Regions from separate parts of the Homo sapiens genome. Here region 1 is linked to region 2. Evidence: fine-mapped expression QTL. A gene starts in region 2. The other region holds a variant in brackets. All regions are shown on one strand. Distances are between the middles of the regions.

Region 1 (5,389 bases), 68 kb after region 2:
GGACTGGCAAACTGACAAATAAGGACTATTTCAGAAGTTTCCAAAAGATGCAAGGCAAAATAAATACCTCATAAGTCATCAGCGAGATGGACAACTGTTGAGAACAAACAGAAGCAACTTTACGCTGGAATCAGCAAAAGCTGCTGTGAGGTAGAACAAGAACGTTTGACAGCAAAGTGTGCACCAGCCAGGGACCTTGGACAGATCATCACCAGCAAAACAGGGATAATTCTTACTGTATCCATTGTTAATGGGATAGCACATAAGAAATACTTAAAGAAAAGGGTATGAGTAAAAAGATGCATTTAATGAATTAATGCAGTTTAGATATTTAATATAGGGTTAGAAGCAAATATACAAATAATGCTTTTATTCTTAGAAAACATCTTTATTCTTTCAGACTCTGAGAATTAGTCTAAAGTTGCAGATAAGTACAAAATTACAAACACAAAGCCAGAATTCACCTTTTTGTGGGGGAACATGGGAAGAAGGTAAAGCAAAGTGTCTGTGATTTTGTATCAACCTGGTTAGGCCACAGTGCCCATTTGTTTGGTCAAACATTAGTCTAAATGTAGCTGCAAAGGTTTTTTTTTTTAAATAAACTTTGAATGAAGCAGATTAACCTCCATAATGTGGCCGAGTCTTATTTAATCAGTTGAAGGCCTGAATTCTACAGCAGATTTTGAAAATGCCAATATTCATAACGGCATGAGCCAATTCCTTATAATAAATATTTCTTACACACACTCTCTTTCTCTCCACACACATACACAACACACACACTCACACACACATCCTTTTGGCTTTGTTTCTCTGGAGAACCCTGGCATACGTAATCCATATGTTTTATAAATATTATATATATTTATATTTATATATATATCTTACACATACTCTGTATGCATATATATGGATGCATGTGTGTATTTCTCATAGAACAAGGTCAAAAGTATCCTTGACAAGGGTACTTTTATAAATAGGTTATAGCGTTCTGGCAAAGCGGGAATTAGTTGAGGATTAAGATGTTACAACCTTCTCCAGGCCTGAATGAAACTATGGCCTGAGATTTTCTAATTCCGCAGGAGCTTGCCTCACCCTAACCTCACTGCAAGGTACCAGGTGGGTCATGCACCCCTCATTACACTGAATCTGCCCCTCCTCCCCTCTCTACTGTCACTCTCTAGCCTGTGACCTCCTTTGCCTATGACAGTGTCCTCTCTGGTCAGCCTTATTCCAGTCCTCCCCACACCCTTCTCCCCAGTGCAACCACCACCTTCTCGCCAGAGGAATCAAATCACATCACTCCCTTAAACCTTTGGGTGGCTGTCACTATGCCTCCCCTTTGTCACTGTCATTCTTTTAAAACATAATTACTTGTATTTCCTCAACCACACCCCCATTGTGTACTACTACACGCCTTTACAGAAGTGGCTACCGCTTCTTGGAATGGTCTCCTCTTGTCTTCTCTTCTCCTTCTCATGCAAATCCAGTACAAGCATTGCTGCGTCTGAAAGCCTTCCCAGCCAACCCCTCACAGCAGAATTCACCACTGCCTCTTCCAGGAGGCTGCTTTGCATTGCATCCTGTGATAATAATCAGCCCCTAGTTGATTCATCTTTGCCTACCAAGCACATGGCCCAGTGCCTGGCACACAGTGGGCCCTTGCAGAGTGATTACTTGAGAGAAGTGAATTGAATTCACCAGATGCCTAGGTGCAAGCTGCCATCCTGACTACCTATTAGTGAGAGGGCTGCAGGGGGTGGGGAAGGTGTCTGTTCACATCCCTAGCTGGAGCCAAGGAAAAGATCTTCCATCTTTCCTTGAGGAGTGGTCAGAAAATCTAAAGTTAATGATCTGGTGCCTGCCTGGCTGGGACAAGGGTCACAGGAAGGCTGTGCCTGGGGAGTGTGTAGGGCTGGAATTAGGGGATAAGAAAGAAGACAGGATATCCTGGACTGACAGAGGAAGTGAACTCAAGAAAAACAGAGGCCATCAGGCCTGAGTTTTTGAGAGAAAGATCTGGAGTAACGGAGAACCTGGGAAGTGGTAGCACAAAATAATGGTGATGATAACAGCAGCCATAAGCAAGACTGAAATAGAATGTGTGACAGAAGTTCAGAGGTAGCAGGAAGAGACAGTGAACGAGAAGATACAATTGGAAAACCTTCTGTTGATGGGCGAAGAGCCGGCAAGTGGAGAAGAGGGTGGCGGGTGAAATATTTTTGTTTTTAAATCAATAACTTGTCTTAAAATGACAACTGAACTTGCTATTAATTAATTTTCATACTCATCTTTTTTTGTGTGTTTGTTTTTAGTTTAGTTTGTTTTGTTTTTTGAGATGGAGTCTTGCTCTGTCAACCAGGCTGGAGTGCAGTGGCACAATCTTGGCTCAAGGGATTCTCCTACCTCAGCTTCCTGAGTAGCAGGGACTACAGGCACCCGCCACCATGCCCAGCTAATTTTTTGTATTTTTAGTAGAGACAGTATTTCACCATGTTAGCCAGGATGGTCTCGATCTCCTGACCTTGTGATCCGCTCGCCTCAGCCTCCCAAAGTGCTGGGATTACAAGCGTGAGCCACCACGCCCAGCTTCATATTCATCTTTCATAAAAGCTTCTTTGGGAATGATAAGCCCTCATATGACACAACTTGATCCTCTCTTTGAAGTGTCTATGAATTTTTCATGGCTTCCAACATTAATTATATTGTTTTATCATCACTTCTCTTTTTGGAAACACTCCTAAAAATGTTTTAGAATGTGGGCATGGAAAAAAATTACATTATCTTAAATTA[C/A]TATGAATGAAGAAGGTAAGAACATTCAAGGAAATGGCAAAGAGGGAATTAAATGCAGGTTTTTTCCAGGTAACTCCAGCAAACACTAACAAAGGGATGACTTGAGAAATCAATAATCTGGTTCTTCTTTGCCTATAGAATCAAGTTGGTTCAAAAATGGAGCCAAACGTTTTACATTAAGAACAACTGGCATACTAAAATAATTATTTATAAGTAATAACATGTTAGTCTGAAACTTTAGATACCAGTCCTGACTCTCAGGACTGGGAAAACGCACTTGGCCCAGCTCAGAAGCCACTGAAACACTGTGGGTTTGGCACCTCATGTCAAGCCCAATCCCTTTGCTATTTGAGTTCATTTATTCTTGGCAAAATATAACTTCCTGCCCCTAAGAAGAAAGATTTTTAAAGTCTCATAAAAATGATTCCAAAGTTTACTTGGACTTCAAAAGGCTCTTACAAAACAACATTTTTATTAGTTAAATTTATGGAATATGGTGCATAAGGATTACATTTTCTTTTATCTTAAATAAATAACAATTAGGGCAAAACCAATGGGATGTGGAGTTGGGAGAAGCTTGGCAAAGAAAAAATCCACAGGGGACCACTTTGCCATGAGTTACAGGAAAAATAGAATCTCCAGAGAGGGAGTGTGCTCTCTCTAGGAACTCTAGAACTGGGACGCAGCTCAGTTTTTCTTCAGATCATCAAAGCCCAGCGCTTACTACCAAGGGAGATGTCCTTACACTAAGGTCTCTGTATAATAGCTCACATCAGGTCTGGTCCGATACCAGAAGGCAAAAAGAACCTGATAATGTGTATTGCTGACATCTTACTGGGTGCTCATGTTCTTCAAAAGATGAAAAGACCGAGTTACCTTCTCCAGTAAAGGCTGAGCACCAGCAGGAAGAGCTGAGGTGTGAACAGGAAAGCCCCAGGTCATGAGTCTGCCTATTTTCACAGCCTGGGCAATACCCAGTCTCAGAAAGAAGATCCCAGGAATGTGGCTCACGCCTTCCCAATGCCCACTCTACTTGATTATTAATCTTAGATTTTAAGTGCTGGGTTAGGTTAAAAGTCTTGAAATTTAGCGCACTAGATTTATTTAGTATAATAGATCTTTGTTAACCCAGCATTCATTGTGTGACTTCCTGAAGATGCCAGATTGTTTAGGAAAGCAAAAATCACCATAACATTAAGTGTTTACTAGTAATCTGACAACTTATAAAAATTAGTCCCCACTCCAGGAGTGCTCCTGGCTGGGTCCATCCCCACATAAAGCCAAGGCTTTGTTCATTAATTTTTCCCCAGATAGTCTGCTGTTGGAAATGTTGAACAGTATAGTGCTACATGCTGCAAATTGATATAAGTCTTGCAAAAGATGCAGGCTTTCACGGTGCCAGTGAAAGTGACGTTGGTGGATCTGCTGGAATTGCAGGCAAAGCCATTCCATATCCTGCCCTGGAGGTGTCTAAACAGACAGCTGCAGAGAGGGACTGCCTAGGGCCCCAGGTGTGATCACGGAGAGCCTGTGCCAGCAAGGCTGATGGCTGAGGAGGTGGTGGGGAGGGGAAACTCAGAATTGGTAAGCGAAAGGAAAACACTCAGAATGGGTTGGGAACATCCTGCAGGTACCAGAAAATGAGGATAATGTGAAAAATATAGTGACAATGATTAAAAAATCAAAGGATCTGACTTAAGGGAATTCTCATGGAAAAGTTGTGATAATTCAAATATTAAATAATTATTATTGTTACATTATAATTAAATAAAAATAAAATTAGTGTTAGGTATAAAATAAAAATAGTATTAGGTAATTGGAATGATTTGATCTATGAAAGATTGAGTTCAAAATCAAAGTCAAAGGAGAAAAGCTAAAAGAAATAGTAAAAAAAAGGAAACTTATAATACAAAAGAAGAATGAAAACAGGATTTATGTTTGTCATTATTTCATGAGGTAAGGGATGTATATATGCCTATATGTATACCAATGTACATACATATGCATATATGAATTATATGCACAAATTTTGCTGCTATATTAGTTTATAAATATGTGTGTATATAATATATATGTTCAGGGTAAGTAGAAAAGAAGAATGGACAGAATAATTGGGAGTGAGCTGAACTAACACAGAAATAGAAGGAACTCTATCAAGAACAGGAAGGGCTGATCAATATTCTGGTCTTGTATAATAACCAGCGGACCCACATTTAACCTCTGATGGTCACACAAAATGACCAAGTAGAAAGAAGGCTCAACAATGTGCTGCAAATGACAAAACAGAAAGAGGGTCCAAAGAGGAGGGCTCATAAAGCAGACTGACTTCCTCATCTCCTAGGAGCCAAAACCTTTAGATAACCCACAAATTCTTATAATATACTAATAAGGAACACACACGTCTAATGATGCTAAAAAAAAGTAGCTCAGTGAATCATAATGTTAGGACGATGGCTATGTACTGGACCATGTGAAGCTGGAAGGATACCTTATTTCTGGGGAAGACATCTAGTTTCAAAAAATTAAAGCCTATATCCCCGATGAGGGCTGAAGACATAACAAGAAAGCCCTGATTATTAATAGACACTCAACCTAA
Region 2 (5,389 bases):
ACTACAGGCGTGCACCACCATACCCAGCTATTTTTTGTATTTTTAGTAGAGACGGGGTTTCACCATGTTAGCCAGGCTGGTCTTGAACTCCTGACCTCAGGCAATCCACCTGCCTCGGCCTCCCAAAGTACTGGGATTACAGGTGTGAGCCACCGCGCCCAGCTGAGGGCTGCTATTTTTAAGAGTGGTCAGAGACACCTACGCAGTACATAGATGACTTTGGGGAAAGATATTATGCAAGTGAGGAAGTGAGTCATGAAGGTATCAGGGAAAGGAGCACTCTAGGAAGAGAAAATAACAAATCCCTTGGAGGCAGGGATTTTCCTGGATTATCAAGCAAGTGCAAAGTGGGACATGTGGCTGGCGTGAAGTGAGCCAGGGAGCAGAGTAAGGGAAGAAGCCAAGAGGCATCTCAGAGGTCAGATCCAGTAGAGCCCTGGTGTCATTAACAGCACTGTGGCCGTCACTCTGTTCCGTAGAGAGCCACTGGTGGGTTTTGAGAAAGGGACTGAAATGAACTGATATTTAACCTCTATGGATTTGATGTCGGTGTATTGGAGTGAGGAGAAATGGACACAGGAAATGATGACAGCGGCTTGGATTACTGTCTTAAAACTGAGGTTTTATCCTGAGAAAATTCCCTTTTCTAAGACAGGAAGGACTGTTAAGAAGTGGCCTGTTTTGTGAGATTAGGATGGAGATCAGTTTGAGAAGCCCGTTGGACATCCAAACAGCAATGTCCAGTGAAAAAGAAGTTAAATACACATGCCAGGAGTTGAGGGAAGTAGTCCTGGCTGGAAAGAAAAAATTGGGATTTTTCAGAATATAGACAGTATGTAAAGCCTGAGAGATGAGATTAACCTAGAAAGCGAGTGTAGAGAGAGACACCTGAGCTTCCCTGGGTTCAAGAAGATGAGATACAGGCTGGGTGTGGTGGCTCACACCTGTAATCCCAATACCTTGGGAGGCCAAGCTGGGAGGATTGCTTGAGTCCAGGAGTTCCAGACCAGCCTAGGCAACACAGCAAGATCCCATCTTCATTTAAAAAAATATATATTTTTTAAGCTTTTTAAAAGAAGATGAGACACAGCTAGCAAAGGAGTGGAATAAGAGCTGCTGGTGAGGGAGGAAGACAACCAGAGCCATGTGAAAGAAATCATTTAAAGAGGAGTGAGTGATCCCCTATGGGGAAAAATAAAATGCTGCTTCTATGTCAATCAAGATGAGGGCTGAGTCACTGTATAGGAGGCAGCAATAAAAAAAATAAAGTAAAAGATGAGGGCTGAGGACTGACCATTAGGTTTAGCATCATGGAGGTCCTTGATTTTAGGAACAGAGCATCAGTGGAGCAGGAAAGGAAAGAAGGAGGGGTGGAAAGCCTAGGACATCAGATACAGACAGCCCTTTGAGAGGTTCTGCTCTAAAATGGACTGAAAAATGGCCAGGTGCGGTGGGGCATGCCTGTAGTCCCAGCTACTCGGGAGACTGAGGTGGGAGGATCCCTTGAGCCCAGGAGTTCAAGACCAACCCAGACAACATAGTGAGAGCCAGTCTCAAAAAAAATAAAATTAAATAAAAAATAAAATGAATTGAGAAATGGAGAGGCTGCAGGAGAAGTGGGGTGAAGAGAGATAGGAGAAATTACAGCAGAGAAAGGGAACGTTTGATGATAAGGAAAAGGACGAAGCAACTGCTGAAGTGGCATCCAGTGTCAGGCTCCAGAGGAGTGAGGGGCTCTCTGATCAAGAGGAGGGGCTGGTCTCAAAGAGGGTGAGTAGAGTACAACCATGGTAACAGCAGGACGCAGAAGCACTGGCACGGAGGCAAGTAAGAGGCTGAATGTGGAAAGTCAACCCCCAACGTGTTGGACCAGTTAATGCTGCTGGTCTCTCTGAGAGGTAACTATGGAAATCTATAATAAGCCAAAGCAGCTGCACCCACAGCTGATGTGAACCTGGAAGATACAGCCATGTGAGAGGACCACGTCATTATTATGGAAGGGGTTCTTAGAATTGCCACCCAAGTAGATTCTGTTGGAGATGGGAGGAGAAAGGGAGGAAAGGGAGTAGAGAAGGCCACACACAATCTTAAATTCAATATTTCACTCCCGTTAAAGATAAGCTGTTTATAAGCTCCAGTGTAGGGCATGTAATTCTATGTAAAAACTCTGTGGTTCCTCTTCCCACATGTAAATCATGATCACTCTACATTCTGCTCTCTGGGAGCCCTCAAGGCAAAGAGACAACAAGACTCGAGGTATAGTAATAAAAGTCTGGGTATTATAAAATCCACCCTGAGCTCCAAGAAAAGAATAGAAAGAAGGAAGCTCTGAAAAGTACTAATTTACCAAAGTTCAATGCAGTTTTGTAAATTTTTATTAACATCCTCGGAAATCCAAATGCCCATCTTGAAACTGAGGGTTTTTTTCCTCAATTATGGCTATATATGCTTTAAAGATAAACTATGAATTCTCTTTAAACTAAGTGCCTTGATAAAATAATGAGTATTAAATACATTTCAGACCACAGAAAGGACTTATCACAAGTCTTTGTGGTAGCTGAGGAGTGCCCCCTACAGACTGATATGCACAATGCAAGCAGATGAAGAGGAAAGAACTGAGCAGCAGTATTTCAGGATTCTCAATAAGGCATCAATGAAAAAAGGTAAGAAACCTTTGCTGAACAAAATGTGACACTAAAGGCTAGGAAATATATGGACACTATGAATTCTTGTTTTTACATATTTGTAAACAGCAAGAAATGAAAAACCTTTGTTTGGACTTTTCTTCTTTTTGACTCTCACCACCGATTGCCCGCAACTGAAGAATGTATTAGTAAAGTCTGTTTTGTTCTTTGGTTACTTCATATCAATATTTGAATACAAATGAAAATAGTAAAATAGTAAAAAAGATATTTTATTCTGCTGTGCAAAAACAACTACCTGGATTCAGAAATTATTTACTTCAGATGTCGGCAACAAAAATAAAACGTAACATATCTATTAAAATGAAGTTAAATGAATTCTAGTTTGAGGTTTTATTCCTTTTTGTAAAGACTCCACAGAGAAGTATTTGCCTTCTATGAATGTTATCGCTTAAAATGTTTATGTTTTTCAAACTAAAAATCACAAAAAGACATGAAAAACATATCCTATGTTTATGAATAGATTTAAAAATATATAAATCTATAAATGTCAAAATATATTACTACACTAAGATTCAATATTACACACTATATAAAATATATTACAATAATATTTGAGAGGCAGAAAGTTATATAGTATATAACCTCATCATAGTTAATAAATTTCATACATAACAATATATTCCAGTTTAATTTTCCATTTGTAAGAGAAAGGAGACAAAATATAATTCAAAACCTTTACATTTTTTATTAAAGATTTTTAGAAACGAATACTGGTGCAATTTAAATGTACCAATATGTTTGATGTCTTTAAGTTAAACTCAGAATTTTATAAATACTTAGCAATGGACAGAATAGTATTTATCCAAATTAACAGCCTTTTACATGATCTTTGAATAAATGTAGATCTTTGGAAAAATGCGTTTAACATCATAAAATGTTCATTTAGACTCAATTTCACATACACTCAGGAGATATACATAAATGTATGTGATTAAATTGATAAATTACACTTCCAAGCATTTTCATAAAGAATGTTTTTCACACTCAGAAAGAGACAATTAGGGTCATGTTTTGATGGCTTCTTTTTCTTATGGAATTTAATAAGATATAATCAAATATTTATATATTGCTTCTTCTAAAATTTTTTAAATTGCATAATAATGAAATTAGAAAATATATTCTTTCCTGTAGGTAATAAAAGCCAATGTACTTACAAAAAACTGCTTGCTATATTAATCTTCCTAAGTGTTCTGGTTATTGACCTAATAATCACAATTGTCTCTTCTTTCCCTCTTCTAATAATATATACATGATGCATTCAGATGTTAAAATGCAGCACTTGTGGAAATGTCTGTTAAAAAATATTAACATATAGGCCCCAAAAATGTATAGTACATTCGAATTAATGAAACTGACTGTTTTTACATGTAATTAACCTCTTGAATGCACTCACTCTCATTATAGAATCCTTGCCAAAATGCAGTATTGCATTTTGGAAGGAATGAAGGGGAAGGGGAGGAGAGGGGAGGGGAGAGGAGAGTAGGGGAGAAGAAAGAAGGAAGAGAGAAAGAGGAAGACAGAGGGAAGGGATTAGGCAGGTCAGCCAACTGATTTAGGTAAATGAATCCACGTTTATAAACATGCACGTTGTAAAATTAACAATTTTCAGAAGAAAGGAAATAATTTACAAGAATAGCATTGATTCAGAAATAAATGTTATTATTCCTAGATAACAAATACAAATAAAAAATCAAATGCCTTAAATATACAATGTTGATTATATGGTCTTATCTTGTGGAAATGTACAAAAGTACAATTAAGATAATTTTGAATAAACTTTTATTCAAATTGAAAACACAATTTTATGTTGCATATACTCCTTTGGTGTTTAGAAGATATCATAAATTCAGTTACTTCCTTATGCCCCAGAAAATGCGGATATTTTTTAGAAAGGCTATTGCTTTCATACTGTTTCTAACATGAAAAACGCTACCTTTTTTGGCTAATACAAAGAAACCACAATTAACAGTGAAACCATAAATACTTTCTGTGTTAACCACAAATGGCCTTTCCCATAGAGAAATGGCTTACATGTGTTCTAAATGTGTTTGGTTTCGTTTTGTATGGAAGGAGCTGTGGGTATGTTTTTATCTAAGAAAAGAATATGGCATGCACATGCACAACTTTCTAAAATGAGAAACACTCATTGAATTTAATCGGAGTTTCGTCTGGGGCGGAAATTCAGAATTAAGCTCCATGGGTGATGATTTTGGATTATCTGGACAGGACTTCAGGGTCTACTTGCCAAACTTTCTTGGACTCTCAGTGCAACATGAGGCAGAAGGGAGCTTCGCCTGTGTCCTATTATTGTATCTGGTGTAACCATGGGCCGATCTCACCAGGCATAGCCTTCACACACTTTCACTTTATCAGTTTCGTTTGAGTCAGTCCCATACTCAACTGTCCACTGCTCGTGACTCTGCTCTGCTTGAGTCTTTTGTGTGTGCCTGTGTGTGTGTAACCGTACCTCATTTCTTCAGTATTACACATCCTGTGAATATCAGGGAGTCTATGGAAATCTACACGTTGATGCTTGAGTATTACACATCCTGTGAATATCAGGAAGTCTATGGAAATCTACACATGTTGATGTTTATAATCATTTTTCTATTTGAATATAACATGTGCTGGGTCATCTTTATAAATGATGGCAACACTCTGAGAATACATAAGAAAGAGAAAGT

Which allele goes with the higher level. Positions count from the first base shown, and alleles are read on the strand shown. Sizes are in standard deviations (SD) of each study's normalised expression.
As copies of A replace C in region 1, the expression in cerebral cortex of the gene that starts at base 2,042 in region 2 goes up (moderate effect, 0.58 SD a copy in GTEx).

What was found. PIP is the estimated chance that this variant, and not a neighbour inherited with it, causes the effect.
Region 1: its variant is the best candidate, but not a certain one, in a credible set for the expression of LINC01923 in cerebral cortex (GTEx, PIP 0.58).

The regions. Positions count from the first base shown.
Region 1 is chr2:198,303,384-198,308,772 of GRCh38, reverse strand. The region is part of intron 2 of LINC01923 (long intergenic non-protein coding RNA 1923); the gene reads left to right. Among named protein-coding and RNA genes, the nearest start is that of LINC01923, 69 kb to the left of the region's middle. The variant C/A (reference allele first, on the strand shown) is at 2,794.
Region 2 is chr2:198,371,750-198,377,138 of GRCh38, reverse strand. It overlaps LINC01923 (long intergenic non-protein coding RNA 1923), which reads left to right and starts at 2,042. Exons shown (of 3, transcript NR_110267.1): 1 at 2,042-2,256; 2 at 2,522-2,663.